Regions from separate parts of the Homo sapiens genome. Here region 2 is linked to region 1. The links come from fine-mapping of genetic effects on gene expression. A gene starts in region 1. The other region holds a variant in brackets. All regions are shown on one strand. Distances are between the middles of the regions.

Region 1 (8,344 bases):
GGTCCTTCTTGGTGCTAGAGATAGCACATGCTCGTACACTTTTTCCTTATTTATACTTTCTATCTGTTAACAGTTCATTAATCCGTAGTAAACAGGAAATCAGCAGTGTGGTGTGTAAGAGCCCTGGGGAATGAGTCAGAAGTCTTCATTCTATTTTGGCCCCTAATTAGCTGGAGATCTCTGGCCCAGACCCTTAACCTCTCTGAATGTTTCCTCATCTGTAAAACGAAGGAGGTAGAATAAGTAACCTGATTTTCATCATTCTGTATTTTTGATATAAGGGGTGTTTCAGCTAAAACGTTTACAGTGATCTCAGACAAGTTAGCACTTCAAGCTCCTAAGGTACATTTTCAGATTCTCTTAAACTGGCTGTTCATCAGCCCTGGCAACACAGCGAGATCCTGTCTCTATAAAAAATTAAAAAATTAGCCAGGTGCGGTGGCAGGCACCTTAAGTCTCAGCTACTCCTGAGGCTGAGGTGGGAGGATCCTTTGAATCTGGGAGTTCAAGGGTGCAGTGGGCCTCAGTCGTGCCACTGCACTCCAGCCTGGGTGAGAGAGTGAGACCCAGCATCAAAAAAAAAAAAAAAAAAAAAAGACTGTTTTTCTAATTTGGATGATGGACATGTGTTTCATTATGCATACTCTTTATAGTATACAAAAATATGCATTCTGTTACTGATCTTATTTATAGTTTGAAGTCTAGCCAATTTAGCATCAATATAATAATAGTAATAACAGCTTTTGCTTGGTATGTGCCATCCCGTTATAAGAGCTCTATGTTATTAATTTACTGAATGCTGTCAGCTAGCACATTAGGTAGATACTCTTTTTTTTTTTTTGAGACGGAGTTTTGCTCTTGTTGCCCAGGCTGGAGTGCAGTGGCTCCATCTCGGCTCACTGCAACCTCTGCCTCCTGAGTTCAAGCAATTCTCCTGCCTCAGCCCCCAGAGTAACTGGGATTACAGGCGCCAGCAACCACACCCGGCTAATTTTTTGTATTTTTAGTAGAGATGGGGTTTCACCATGTTGGCCAGGCTGGCCTAGAACTCCTGACCTCACGTGATCCACCTGCCTCGGCCTCCCAAAGTGCTGAGATTACAGGAGTGAGCCACCGTGCTCTGCTGAGCTGCCGAGGTAGGTGCTCTTATTACCCCCATTTCACAGATGATGAAACTAACGCCCAGAGAGGATAAGTAACTAGTCCAAGTTTATGCAGTTAGGTTGGGATCTGAACCCAGTTACAGAGCTCAAGACTCCCACTGGTTTGGCAACACTGCCTCTCATATGCGTTACTAATACGTGATAAGAAAGATGTCACTTATGGCCAGGCGCAGTGGCTCACTCCTGTAATCCCAGAACTTTGGGAGGCGGAGGCAGGCGGATCACCTGAGGCCGGGAGTTCAAGACCAGCCTGACCAACATGGAGAAACCCCGTCTCCACTAAAAATACAAAAAATTAGCCGGGAGTGGTGGCGCATGCCTGTAATCCCAGCCCCAGCTACTTGGGAGGCTGAGGCAGGAAAATCTCTTGAACCCAGGAGGCGGAGGTTGCAGTGAGCCGAGATCGCGCCATTGCACTCCAGCCTGGGCCACAAGAGCGAAACTCAGTCTCAAAGAAAAAAAAAAAAGAAAGAAAGATGTCACTTAACGAACAGAAGATAAACAGGATGAGACCCCCAAAAAAATTAGGTTTGGAGAAAAAATATTTTAACAAAAATAGTAAATTGCAAACTATGGTTGTGCCAAAAAACTTACAGATAGAGTAATTTCACTAGAAATGTCCTTGTCAAGTTTGGGGCGGAAGTCAGACCGTTTTGCGAATTTGAACATTTGTTTAGTCAATTCCACGGTTTGGAGCCACTAGGGATGAAATGAAGCCAAGCCACGCCAGGGCCCTGCCACTTGTGTCCCAAGGAGGGTGGCTGGAGACTGATGCAGAAGCCCCTTCCTCCCCACACTCCGGGGCAATGAGGAGCCCGCGTGCAGGTGCCTAATTCCGCTAGCCAGTGGGCGAGGGTCCTGCTGGCACCGAGGGCACCAAGGCTGGGGTTTTGACACCAACGAACCCCAGCCAGGTGACTGGGGAACGTGGGGAGTTCGACAAAGAGCGATAGGCTTTTGCCATTTTTTTTTTTTTTTTTTGAGACGGAGTCTTGCTCTGTCGCCCAGGCCGGAGGGCAGTGGCGCGAGCTTTTGCCAAGTTACGAGACGGACAGGAATCGAGGAGATTCCCCTGTAGCGCTCTCCACCTTCCGGACAGAAATCCTGTAGACCACGTTCACTTCTCCACTCCGTGCATCGCCCGTGGCCCGTGGGCAGCAGCTGCTCCCCTGGGATCCCCCTCGCCTGTCCGCGAGCTCTCGCACGGCCGCGTCCCTGCTGCTGGGGTCGCTCGCTGGCCCTGGCTGCTCGCCAGGATTTTCCTTTGATGCTGTCAAGTCCGGGAAGCTCACGATGCACCTCAGTGCCCGCGCGCCGCCTCTCCCAAAGCCCCTTCCCCACTCACTCCCCCACAAGCGTGGAGGGAGATGGGGTAGGTCGCGGCGCCTATAGACCCCCTCCCGGCGCCCACTCTCTCTCTTCCACTTCTCTAGCAGCGGTAGGGCCGCAGCGCACGCAAACCTTTCCCCAAAACGCCCACCCCACTCTCAGCTAGCCGCTTCTCTCAGGGCTCCTCCGCCCGAGCTGGGTGTGGGGATCGCCGCGCACACAGAGACGGGAAAGCCACCCCGGTCCCGGAGCGCCGCTTCCCTAGAGGCCCCTGGCCCGTCCGCTCCCCCAGCGCTGGAGGACAGCCGCGCACACAGACCCTCCCCTCCAACGCCCACCGCGGTCCCCAGCTGCAGCCTGCACCTCCACTTCCCGCCCCCAGTCTCCCGCCCTCCGCCCCCTGCTTTCCAGTCTCCGCAGTCCGGGCGCCCAGACTTGTTTCGACTTCCCAGGGCAGCTCCGAGGGTGCGGAAGATCAAGTGCCCGGGTTTGTTCCAGGAAAATCCCGGCGGCGCCTGCACGTTAACTGCCCTGGCGCAGGCGAAGGGTGGAGGGCACTTCTCTGTTCATTCGGTTTTCAAGAGCGTGAACAGAGGCTCCGAGTGAACGCCCATACCTAGTCGGTCTTCTAGGGTCCACGCGTGGGGCGTCCACTTCCTCACCCTGCCCCTCGGTGCCCCTGCCCTGGTTGCACTTCTCCTAAAAGGAGGCGCTACGATTCCAGGAGGCTCTGTCTCCTTACCCTTCCCAGCGGCGCTCAAACCACCAGCCCCGGGCGCCCAACCCCTTCCTTGTCCTCTCCCTATCCCGTGAGAAAGCCGACGCTTCCACCCGCCTGGTCTTTCCGAAATACGCTTCGGGTGGTCAATGCGATTTCTAGGGTCTAAAGACTAGACTCCCGCGTTCCCCACCAAGACACCGACGCGAAGCCGCAGAGGTGGAATCGCGGACGCCCTGGCAGGCCCGGGACATATTGATCCTGGTGGCGCGATGCCCCTCTTCGCACGCGGACGCACTCGCAGCCCCACTCCCCCAAACTCGCACTGCGGGAAGGAACCCCCGACTCGCACCGGCTCCCGCCCCGCAGCAACGGCGACACCCTGAGGTCCGGACGAGCGGCGCGCCCCTCCCAGCCTCGGCCACTTTCCAGCACGAAGCCTCAGGGCGAGCCCGAGACGAAGAAAGAGAGTTCGAGGAACTGGGATACTCACGAGCCCACCGTCCACCCTGCCGGCCGGGGAGGAAGCCCCGGCCGGCTCGCCTCCGTCCGCCGTGCGCATGCGTCCCGCGGGTGCCTTCTCAATATTGCAGCGCGGAGGGCTGCCCTCTCTACGTCGGCGATTGCTCACCGCGCCTTTCGCCTTTCTCCGGCTCTCGGTCTTTGCTCTAGCCCTCTTCTCCCGGCCTCTTCCTCCCCTTGCTCTGCCTCCTCCCCGCCCCCTCACTCCTTTTACCCGGCCGGGCAATCCCACGTCTCGCCTCCCTCCAGCGGCGGCGCACTCCACCGCCGCGGGTGCTAGGGGTACCCCCGAGGCCCCACGCGGGGCGCGACCTCCACCCCGGCCGCAGCCCCACTGCTCCAGCCCCGCATTAGCAAGTCCCAAGAGTGTGGATGCGAAGCCAGGCGCGCGTAGAGGGCGTCCGCGAAGCCCTCTGTGTCATCGCCTCCCCTCGGCGCGCGGGGCCGAGCGAGACTAGAGTGTGCTGGACTGCGTGCTCGGACCTCGTGAATGAAGGGAGCGGGAGGAAGGAGCGGGGGTGGGCGGCAGGCATGGAGGGGGCGCTTGGTCCCCAGAGCTTCGCGTCTGTGGACTGCGCGTCTCTGGAGGGCAGCCCCCTACCTTCTCCCCGGCCCGGGGCGCCTCTCTGAGCTCTGTCCCCGCCCCACCCCGGCGCAGCCTAGGCCTCCGGTCTTCCCGCCCTGGAAAGCGGCCCTCGCCCCCTCCCAGCTAGCCAGAGCGCGGAGGCCCCACCCAGCAACCGAGCGGGGGATAAGGGGGGGAACTAACCCCTGACTCCAGATCCCGCTGAGACCCTCGGCAGTCGCCCTCCGCGTCCCCTTCTCCAGGGACTCCGGAGTCCGGGGAAAGGAGTAGACCAGGGGGCAGCGGGAGGGGGAACCCAGCCGCCCAGCTCTCCGGACTCGCAGCACCGCGTGTCCCCGTAGCCCGCAGCGTCCCTTCGGGAGTGGGACCCGGTGGGGCCGCGGGGTTAGTTCCCTGGAGCCCGGAGGGCTAAGCTGAAGCTGGAAACTGACCTGACACAAAAATAACATCACGTCATTTCCTCCCTTGCCTGCCGAGAGGGCAGGGGAGTGGGAGAGCGAGCGCTGGGAGCAGGCGGAGGCGCGTTTGGGGGAGGCTCGGAGTAGGCGGAGGAGAGCGACACGCTGAGAGTTTGAAAGGCAGCCTCGGGGAAGAGCGAGGGCTCCCTCCCGTTTTCTTGGACCATGGAAAGGAAATGGCCCAGGAAAAAGTAGCTTGGAGTGTCTTCCCGCGGGGAGGGGCGGTGTCCCGGGAGCCGCCAATGTCCCGTCCTAGGACTTGCCCAGCCACGTCCCGGCCTTCCCGACCTTGCCACCCTCCCTACTGCTAGCCCCAGCGGAGCGGGTCAGTTGGGGTTAGGAAGAATCGGGAGAGGCTGGTGTCCTGGGGAGGCTGGGTGTGGGGCGTAGTGGAGACCACGGTACTCACCGGCATAGGCGAGCTCTGCCCAGCGGTGGCGTCTTCTTCCCTGGGCTTGGCTACCGGATGGGGGGGCCTCAGCGGACGACCCCCCGAGGGTCGGCCGGGCAGTGCCAGCGCCGCCCCGAGCAGGAGCGAGAGGCGGCCCGGCAGCTCCTCGTGCCCCCTCGAGAGCCGGGCGGCCGGCAGGGCGGGAAGCAGGGGGGAGAAGTCCAGGCGCCTCCGGGGAGCCTCGGGAGGGGGTCGCCGGAGAAGGTGAGAGAAGAACCTTGCGAGGCTGGAAAGCGGGCTAGAAAGGAGGCCGAACAGCTTCGGGGCGGCGGGCGAGTCTGGGAGCTGTGCAGGCGGGAAGGACTGGGGTGGGGAGAGAGAAACAAAACCAGCATACGGTTACTGTGGTGTCCGGCCGCTTAGATGGGGCTCTTTACTACAGAATTTTGAAGCGTTACTTTGGGGGTGCAAGAGAAGGTCGGTGAAAGCAGAAGGAAAGGCCTATAGTTAGATTCTTTCCCCTCCCACTCCTGTATTTCCTAACTCCGTGCTACTTGAAGTGTGGTCCGTAGGCCAGCAGCTTCGCCAACACCTAGGAGCTTGTTAGAAATAAAGACTCTTGAGCCCCACCCAGCCAATGCATCGGAATCTGCATGGTAACATTCCCAGGGGACTACCATGCGCGCTGAATGTGACATGCGGTATGCAGAAGGGTCTGTGTTCACATCGCCTGGTTCTTCAGAATTTGGATGAAAATCTTAGTTCACTTTTGTAACTGTTGCTCTTCCCCTCCCTTCTCTGGTCTTCCCTTGTTCCCCCTGCCCTTTCCCATCTCCCTAAGTGCCCAGGGCTCTGCCTGCCAGAGGCACAGAGTTGGCCTTGGCTACTAGATTCTATTGGGATTGTTGTCTATGGAAGGTCCAGATAGTGGCTGAAGGTGGCTGAAGGGCCTCAGACCCTCCACAGGCTGGTTGGAAAAAGGGACTGGCCAGTGCGGCTGTAGGTATGTTGCGTGGAGCTGGGGACACCGGGATTCCATGTTAGGGCTGCTACTACAAGTGAACCCTCTGCAGACCTCCTTTCCAAACTCCATGTGTCCTTCTTATTCCCGGGAACACCGGCCTTTCCACCTTCCACTTGTTGCTTAGGAGACCTAAGCAATGAGATATTTTTTTTCTTTTGGAAAGTGGAGGGAAGCACTAGTTTAGAAGTCAGAAACCCACGGTTCTACACTCAACCTTGCCACTAACTTAATGGCTAACCTTGGGAATGTCTCTTTATTTTTTGAGTTCATTTATAAAGGGGTTGAACTCAGTGGCTTTTTAAGGTCACCTGCCACGTTCAGACTGTCATCTTTGAGACGCTCTTAGTTTCTTGGTACACTAACGTTTAGTGTAGTTACAAACCGGAATGTAGCTCGGCCAATCCAAACACCCCCTCATGCCAAACAAAAAACAATTTAATCTGTCTGTGAAAAACAAGAGCGGTGGTTGCCAAAAAAAATGAAGGTGGAGGCGGGAAGCAGCGAATAAAGTGCTGGGGTGGTGAGGCGCGGGAGGCGAGCGCGGGTGTTCTGGGTTGGGCGTGGGTCCCAGGGGCGCGGCGGCCGCTCTCCAGGGTCCTGAAGGCGGGAGCGGTCGCGAGCGGCCTCGTGGGCCTGGCGCGGTTCCCTCACTCCGCAGTCACCAGGCCCGGCCTGTATTCTTTCGGCGGTGGAAGTCTTGTGGGAAGCGATTGTCAGGAGAGAGGGAAGGAAACCTAGCAACCCATTCTCATTCATGAGGCCCTTTCTGGGAAGCCGCGAGTGCGGTGGCTGATTTGTCTTGCTGTCGTTTGTTTGCTCCTGGGTGAGTTGAACTCGGTTTGCATTTCCGAGTAAGTTCACACTGTTTCACTTCCCCTCATTACCTTTTCCTGGAGAATGGGGTCGTTCTCCCAGTATTTTCATTCTCCTCGTTCAGCTGCTCCCCTCCCCCGCTCTCTGGCAAGGTGCTTTTATTTTAGGGGCTGGAGCTGGGAGCCGAGGAGGCTTCTGGAGAAGCGCCAACAGCTCCCTCGAGGGGGAAAGTGGGCGACTTGGAAATCGGTCTTGGCGCCCAGGGAACGAGCTGCTGAGCGTTCGTCTCGCTCGGGAGGAGGACAGGGGACGCGCCCCTCCGGCTGGGGCTTGGGGTGGAGGCTCAGCTGCCGCCAAGCGTGCTCGGCCTCCGCCGGGCAGCTAGTCCTGGGCGGCACCTGCGGGGGACTGCGGGCCGGCGGCCGCGTCTGCGCCCCACTCCGGAGCGAGGGCCCTCGGCGAGGGCGGGAACTTCGGCGGCCACGGGCGGCAGGGCCGGCGGGACCCCACGCTAAGAAGTCGAGAGAGGACCAGCCGGGTTCCTGGCGACCTAAAGCCTGACTGAGCCCACCCACGGCCTTCCCGACCCTACGCAAGGGCTTGAAAAAAGCCGAAAATGCTGAAAGAGAGCGCCCAGCACTGTTCTGCGACGCACGCCCAACTTCGAGGAGCCCGAGCGAGCTCCAAAGCCTTTCGTGGGTCCCAGAATTTGGCGTCTCCAGCTCATGTTTTCAAATGGTTTTGTGAGAACGTGCGAACTCGTAACCTCCTTTCTCCCTTCGCCCCAGTCCTTCTTCCCAAGTCACTTGCAAGCCCCTGCCCCTTCCTCAGGCACGCTTCATTAGGCATTTTGCTTCGGTCCTGTGCTTCGAGACAGAGACTCTTGTGAGGCAAGTGGTGGAAATGGTCAGACAGAATAAAAGTCCCAAACCTGATCCAAGAAAAACAAGACTCGGCTCCTTTGCTCCTCTGGAGACAGTCACCGCTTGCCGGCCCCACACTGGCCTCCGGATCAGCCGCCTGCTCCCCTGCTACTCTGAAGCCACCGCGAGCCTGGCGCGGGACCCAGCGGCTTCTCCAGTTAGGGGAGGGGATGAGGGTGAATCAAGCAAGGTGTGGGGCGCTGGAATCCTTCCGAACTTCTGGCAAGGACAGAGCCGAAGAGTATCAATGTAGCCAAAAAATTCGATCTGAGAAAAGTTATCTGCAGAAAGACCTTCAGCTGCCCGAAGGGCTGCACTTCAGAGAGCCTTGTCCTCCTTTTAGGCCAGATTCTATTTGACAGTCTGAGGACTGTCAAAAAATAGCCACAAAATGGAATCATCAGTACCGTATTCCTG
Region 2 (8,344 bases), 66 kb before region 1:
GGGATGTTCAACTGGTAAGTATAATGCAAATATTCCGAAATCTGAAAAAATCTGAAATCTGAGACATTTCTAGTTCCAAGCATTTTGGATAAGGGAAACTCAAACTGTATTTCAATCTCCTTGTTACGTGGGTCTTTTTGGATACCTTCAGGTTCACTAATTATTTATTTAGTTGTATCTAATCTTCTATTTCAATCATCAATTTTTTTAAAATTTGAACAATAATATTTGATTTTTAAAACTTCTATTTTATTTCTTTTCAAATCTTCCAGGTCATTTCTTAAAGAAATGTGTTAACACGCTGGGCGTAGTGGCTCACGCTTGTAATCCTAGCACTTTGGGAGAACGAGGTGGGCGAATCACCTGAGGTCAGGAGTTCGAGACCAGCCTGGCCAATATGGGGAAACCCCATCTCTACTAAAAATACAAAAATTAGCTGGGCATGGTGGTGGGCGCCTGTAATCCCAGTTACTTGGGAGGCTAAGGCATGAGAATCGCTTGAACCCAGGAGGCAGAGGTTGCAGTGAGTCAAGATTGCACCACTGTACTCCAGCCTGGGTGACAGAGCTAGACTCCATCTCAAAAAAAAAAAAGAAATGTGTTAACAGTGTTTACTCTCTTAGAGGTTAGACCACTTTCTTTACTTATATACCATTAAATTTTTGGCAAGCATCTATAGCTTTTTCTTTCTCCCTCTCCCTTTATTGATTGATTGATTGATTGAGGCAGAGTCTTGCTCTGTCTCCTAGGCTGGGGTGCAGTGGTGCAATCTTGGCTCACTGCAACCTCTGCCTCCAGTGTTCAAGCAATTCTCCCTGCCTCAACCTTCCAAACAGCTGGGATTACAGGCGTTTGCCACCACGCCCCGCTAATTTTTGTATTTTAATAGAAAAGGGGTTTCACCATGTCAGCCAGGCTGGTCTCAAACTCCTGACCTCAGGTGATCCGCATGCTTTGACCTTCCAAAGTGCTGGGATTACAGGTGTGAGCCACCGTGCCCACCCACCGTATATTATATAATATACTTTTATTTTTAAAATATAACTGTTTCATGTTTGCTTGAGAAGGATATATATTTTCAAATGTTTAAATCCAAGTTTTTGTAAATGACCAATAAATATATATACTGTATCTTATATATAGTATATATAAATATATACTGTATCTTATATATAGTATATATAAATATATACTGTATCTTATATATAGTATATATAAATATATACTGTATCTTATATAGCATATATAAATATATACTGTATCTTATATAGCATATATAAATATATACTGTATCTTATATAGCATATATAAATATATACTGTATCTTATATAGCATATATAAATATATACTGTATCTTATATAGCATATATAAATATATACTGTATCTTATATAGCATATATAAATATATACTGTATCTTATATAGCATATATAAATATATACTGTATCTTATATAGCATATGTAAATATGTACTGTATCTTATATAGCATATGTAAATATGTACTGTATCTTATATAGCATATGTAAATATGTACTGTATCTTATATAGCATATGTAAATATGTACTGTATCTTATATAGCATATGTAAATATGTACTGTATCTTATATAGCATATGTAAATATGTACTGTATCTTATATAGCATATGTAAATATGTACTGTATCTTATATAGCATATGTAAATATGTACTGTATCTTATATAGCATATGTAAATATGTACTGTATCTTATATAGCATATGTAAATATGTACTGTATCTTATATAGCATATGTAAATATGTACTGTATCTTATATATAGCATATGTAAATATGTACTGTATCATATATAGCATATGTAAATATGTACTGTATCATATATAGCATATGTAAATATGTACTGTATCATATATAGCATATGTAAATATATACTGTATCATATATAGCATATGTAAATATATACTGTATCATATATAGCATATGTAAATATATACTGTATCATATATAGCATATGTAAATATATACTGTATCTTATATATAGCATATGTAAATATATACTGTATCTTATATATAGCATATATAAATATATACTGTGTCTTATATATAGCATATATAAATATATACTGTCTTATATATAGCATATGTATATATACTGTATCATATATCGTATATATAAATATATATACTATAACTTACATATAGTATATATACTATCATATATATAGCATATATAAATATATATACTATCTTATATATAGCATATGTAAATATATATACTATATCATATATATAGCATATATAAATATATATACTATATCATATATATAGCATATATATACTACATCTTATATATAGCATATATATACTACATCTTATATATAGCATATATAAATATATATACTATATCCTACATATAGCATATATACTTATATATAGTATATATACTATCATATATATAGCATATATAAATATATATACTATCTTATATATAGCATATGTAAATATATATACTATATCTTATATATATAGCATATGTAAATATATATACTATATCATATATATAGCATATATATACTACATCTTATATATAGCATATATAAATGTATATACTATATCCTATATATAGCATATATAAATGTATATACTATATCCTATATATAGCATATATAAATGTATATACTATATCCTATATATAGCATATATAAATGTATGTACTATATCCTATATATAGCATATATAAATGTATGTACTATATCCTATATATAGCATATATAAATGTATGTACTATATCCTATATATAGCATATATAAATGTATGTACTATATCCTATATATAGCATATATAAATGTATGTACTATATCCTATATATAGCATATATAAATGTATATACTATATCCTATATAGCATATATAAATGTATATACTATATCCTATATAGCATATATAAATGTATATACTATATCCTATATAGCATATATAAATGTATATACTATATCTTATATATAGCATATATAAATGTATATACTATATCATATATAGCATATATAAATGTACTATATCTTATATATAGCATATATAAATATACTATATCTTATATATAGCATATATAATATATATACTATCTTATATATAGCATATATAATATATATACTATATCTTATATAGCATGTATAAATATATATGCTATATCTTATATAGCATGTATAAATAAATATGCTATATCTTATATAGCATGTATAAATAAATATGCTATATCTTATATAGCGTGTATAAATATGCTATATCTTATATAGAGTGTATAAATATATATACTATATCATATATATAGCATATATAAGTATATATGCTGTATTTTATATATAGTATATATAAATATATATGCTATATCTTATATAAAATTATATGATATACTTTTATTTTTAAAAGTATATTATATAAAAATAAAATAACATAATATGTTTTGTTAGGAAGAATCTATTTGTATTTGCAATTAGCAAAGGGATTAGACTAATAATGGAACTGATTTCTCTCCCTGTCACACGATGAATTAAATGGAATTCTGCAGGGGAGGAATGCGAGGCCACATAATGATTGGATATTACTAAATTACAGTTAGAGAAAGTATGTGTTCTGTTGAAACATACAAGGCAAAGAAAAGAAAGAGGTTAGTATTTCTGTTAGTTTAGTGAGGTAAAAAAAACGTGTGATTTCACCTTTCTTCCCAGGTTGGAAGATCTGCTCTGAGTTCGTGGGAAGCTATTGTGGGCCTCTGATCTTCCTGGTTTCTAACAGTGAGACTGCAAAAAAAAGACATTCACATGTTGACAGCTCAGTCCCTGCCAAGAAAAGATTTTTTACAAATACTTTAAAGAGAACTTCAGATCCCCAAGTATTAATAGAATTTCTTCCTCTACTTGGAAAAAAAAATGACCCCAGTTAGTTTTCCCAAGCAAACCAAAAGTGTGACAATAAGGTACTAGAAATATAAATAAACGTTGTGGTTTCTACTATTGAGAAAGAGTTAGAAATTATTGTGTTCA[A/T]TTATACTTAGAATAATGATTTTTTAAATAAAAACATTCATTAGAAAATAGTAAAAAAGGGTTCGGCGCGGTGGCTCATGCCTGTAACCCCAGCACTTTGGGAGGCCAAGGCAGGAGGATCACTTGAGGCCAGGAGTTTAAGACCAGCCTGGGCATCATAGCGAGACCCTGTCTCTATTTAATACAAAAATTAAAAAAATGAAAATAGTAAAAAAGTAAGACTGTCAGGAATGTATTGGGGTTTCATTTCATTTTCTGCATCTTAAAAAGTATACATCCTCTAGGCTTTGTTTCCAGTCAAAATGGAGGCTTCATATATTTATAGGCAAATATACAAAAGTAGTAGAGAAAAATAAAGTGCATAATCAAAATCTATTGTATTTCTCTAAAGAGTTTGTTTTCTTATACACATTCTGTACATTTGTCTGTAAACTTATTCCAAGTATTTTTGTTGTTATCGTAAATGGAATTTGTACTTTTATCTCATCTTGTAACTGGTTATTGTTGTAATATGAATGCTATTTTTTTTTTTTTGGAGACCAAGTCTTGCTCTGCTGCCCAGGCTGCAGTGCTGTGGCGCAATCTCAGCTCACTGCAACCAAGCGATTCTTGTGCCTCAGTCTCCTGAGTAGCTGGGACTACAGGCATGTGCCAACACGCCCGGCTACTTTTTGTATTTGGTTTCACCATGTTGGCCAGGCTGGTTTCAAACTCCTAACCTCAAGTGATCCACCCACCTGGACCTCCCAAAGTGCTGGGATTACAGGCATGAGCCACCGTGCCCGGCCACTTTCTTAATCACTTTATTGAGCTATCATTCATATGCCGTCAAGTTTATCTGTTTAAAGTGTACAATTCAGTGGTTTTTAGTATACTCACAAAGTTGTGCAACCATCCCTACTATCTAATTCCAGAACATTGTCATCACCCCCAAAAGAAACCCCACCAGTAAGCAGTCACTGCTTATCACCTGTATCTCCCCACTCTACCGGCCCTAGGCAAGCACGAATCCGCTTCCTGTCTCTATAGATTTGCCTGTTGTGGAGCATACCGTATGTGATCTTTGCTGGCTGTCTCCTTTCACTTGGCGTAATGTTTTTGCACTTAGCCCATGCCGTAGCATGTATCGGCACTTCATTTCTTTTTCCAGTTGAATAATATCTCATTGTTTGGATAGACACATCACATTTCGTTTGTCCATTCATCAGCAGATAGACATTCGGGTTGTTTCCACATTTTGGCTGCATGAATCATGCTGCTATGCACATTCCTGTGCAAGTACGTGCGAACATATATTTGTGTTTCTCTCAAGTAGAAACCTCGGAGTAGAACTGCTGAGTCATATGGTAACTTGAGTTTTAACATTTTGAGGAACTCCCAAACTGTTTTACAAGGCAATTGCACCATTTCACATGGTAATATTTGAGGGATCCAATTTCTCCATGTCCTTGCCAACAGTTACTGTTGTCTTTTTTATTCTAGCTTCATAAGTGGGTGAGAAGTGGTATTTCATTGTGGTTTTGATTTGCATCTTGCTAATGACTACTGATGTGGAACATCTTTTCATGCATTTACTAGCTATTTGTACATCTTTGGAGAGATGTGTGTTCAGATGTTTTGACCATTTCTAAATTGATTTATTTGCATTTTATTATTGAAATGGAAGTGTTCTTCATTTTAAGACCTGAAGCCTACAGAGTATTATTTTAATGATAATTTTATATCCTTCTTATTTCTGAATTCTTCTGTATTTGTATCAGTTATAGCTATAATTCTCTTCGGGTTTCATCTGCAAATAGGAAGAATTTTACCTATTTCCAATTCTCAGGCCTCTAATTTTCTTGTCTAATTAGCTAACACCTAAAATACTTTTTTTTTTTTTTTGAGACGGGGTCTTGCTCTGTCTCCCAGGCTGGAGTGCAATGGCGTGATCTCAGCTCCCTACAACCTCCGCCTCCCGGGTTTAAGTGATTCTCCTCCCTCAGCCTCCTGAGTAGCTGGGACTACAGGCGCGCACCACCACACCCAGCTAATTTTTGTATTTTTAGTAGAGACGGGGTTTCACTATGTTGGTCCTGCTGGTCTTGAATTGCTGACCTTGTGATCTGCCCGCCTCGGCCTCCCAAAGTGTTGGGATTACAGGCGTGAGCCATCGCGCCTGGCCAAATACATTGTTAAATAGTAGTAGAGATTGTGGACATTTTGCCTTATTCATGATTTTTGCAGGAATGCTTTCAGCATCCCATCAACATGAAAATGGATTTTATCACTGACAATTTGGGTTTTCTTTATCTTGTTGCTACTGTATTTTCTATATTCTTTATTATATCTTTTCTTAACACTATTTTATAAAAGTTTTTCAGCCTGTTTTTAGCACAACTGTTTTATAAATTTTCAGTGTGTGTGTGTGTGTGTGTGTGTGTGTAGCTCTATTTTTCTTTAAAGGCAAAATCATTAGAAATGCAGGAACCCTTTTGACTTCTTTCTTTCATGATGTCAGGGCTAAATAGTTTCAGTAAATAATGGCTTCTTTAAAAAAAAATCCAACCAAAAAAAACTTGAGAGGCATCTGAGTGGTACGCTCTCTGCATGACTTCCGAGGCTTCTTTTGTAAGCAAAACACATTACTGCTCAGTGGGTATGAAAAAGCAGAGGAAAAAAGAGATGAATTTGACAGGAGTTCCTCAGAGAACCAGAAGCTGTACTGCAAACTAAATAATGCAAACTTATTTCAGCTTTGATATACTTTTTCCCTCATTTCAAGTAAGAATGTTTTAAAGAGACAATGTGGTTTTGAAAAAGAGAAGAATTTTTTTTTGTGAAGTTTTCTTTACCTCGGTCCACTGTTATTGTTACAGCAGACCTAGAAGATGTCTATAGTAGCCAAGATAGTTGCTCGCTGTGTTTTAGGAAGTTTCAGTAAAAGAAGACCCATGGCCAGATATATTTTGGTAAAATTTTGAGTGATAAAGAGAAAACTTACTAGAAAGGAAAAAAACTTTATATTCAACTGAACAAGAATCAGCATGCCTTCCCTTATAACACTAAATACCAGAAGGCCTTACAGCAAAATGTTGAGAAAGATTCACAAGTACTTAGAAAAGAAATTGCCATTTACTTTTCTTGAAAATTGACTTGACTATGTATATTAATATGGATAAATCTCAAAAGTGTGGTGAAAAAAAACAAGGAAATTCACTATTAAAACAGTTGAAGTTTGCTGTGTACTTTTCCCCATCTCATTTCTTCCTCTCTTTACCCTAGAGAGAGCCACCATTTTTAACTTACTGTTTACCATTCCAATTCATAATTATGCTACTATATTATATTCATAAACATATTTTTAAACATAGTATAAATGTAATTATGTAACATGTATTGCTTTATAATTTTTTTTCCCTCTAGCATATGAATTTATTTATTTCTGAGACAAGGTCTCACTCTGTTGCCCAGGCTGGAGTGCAGTAGCATGATCATAGCTCACTGCAGCCTTGAACTCCTGGGTTCAAGTGATCCTTCCACCTCAGCTTCTAGAGTAGCTGGGACTACAGGCACATGCCACCATGCCGGGCTAACTTTTTTTTTTTTTTTTTTTAGTGGAGACATGGTCTCGCTGTGTTGCCCCAGCTGGTCTCGAACTCCTGGGCTCAAACAATCCTTCTGCCTTGGCCTCCCAAAGTGCTGGGATTACAGGCATAAGCCACCACGCCTAACTTATTTATTTGTTTAGTTTTGTTTTTCTAGTATATGAATTTAAGTGCTGTATGGTAGTGGATTGTATAACTATACCACAATATATTCATCCATTCTCCTGTCTATACCCTTTAGAACCATTTTAAATTTTTCTCACTCAGATGAATGCTGTAGTGAATCTTCTCATACATGTCTCCTTTTTTTGCAGGGGTGTGAGAAGTTTTTCCAGGGTATAGGTTTTTCTTTTCTTTTTTTTTTGTTTTTGTTTTTCAGACAGAGTCTCACTCTGTTACACACACTGGAGTGCAATGGCACAATCATCATTCACTGCAGCCTCAACCTCCCTGGGCTCAAGCGATCCTCCCACCTCAGCCTCCTGAGTAGCTGGGACTACAGGTGTGCGCCACCATGCCTGGCTAATTTTTGTGTTTTATTTTTTATTTATTTATTTTTTTGAGATGGAGTTTTGCTCTTGTTGCCCAGGCTGAAGTGCAATGGTGCAATCTCGGCTCACCGAAACCTCTGCCTCCCAGGTTCAAGCGATTCTCCTGCCTCAGCCTCCTGAGTAGCTGGGATTATGGGCATGTGCCCCCATGCCTGACTAATTTTGTATTTTTAGTAGAAACGAGTTTTC

Direction of the effects. Alleles are on the strand shown, and positions count from the first base shown. SD is a standard deviation of normalised expression in the study named.
In carriers of allele A in region 2, the expression in subcutaneous fat of the gene that starts at base 3,916 in region 1 tends to be lower than with T alone (small effect, 0.23 SD a copy in GTEx).

What was found. PIP is the estimated chance that this variant, and not a neighbour inherited with it, causes the effect.
Region 2: its variant is fine-mapped to the expression of RGS20 in subcutaneous fat (GTEx, PIP 0.98).

The regions. Positions count from the first base shown.
Region 1 is chr8:53,876,444-53,884,787 of GRCh38, reverse strand. RGS20 (regulator of G protein signaling 20) reads right to left here and starts at 3,916. Exons shown (of 5, transcript NM_003702.5): 1 at 3,704-3,916. The coding sequence starts at 3,772. RefSeq lists enhancers at 224-273, 2,407-2,476, 2,754-3,385, 3,386-4,017, 4,665-4,959 and 1 more and silencers at 3,967-4,076, 4,207-4,256, 4,337-4,476.
Region 2 is chr8:53,942,095-53,950,438 of GRCh38, reverse strand. It overlaps RGS20 (regulator of G protein signaling 20), which reads right to left. Exons shown (of 5, transcript NM_003702.5): 3 at 3,691-3,774. Among named protein-coding and RNA genes, the nearest start is that of RGS20, 65 kb to the right of the region's middle. RefSeq lists enhancers at 5,046-5,185, 5,196-5,245, 5,076-5,370, 4,831-6,030 and a silencer at 5,076-5,370. The variant A/T (reference allele first, on the strand shown) is at 4,018.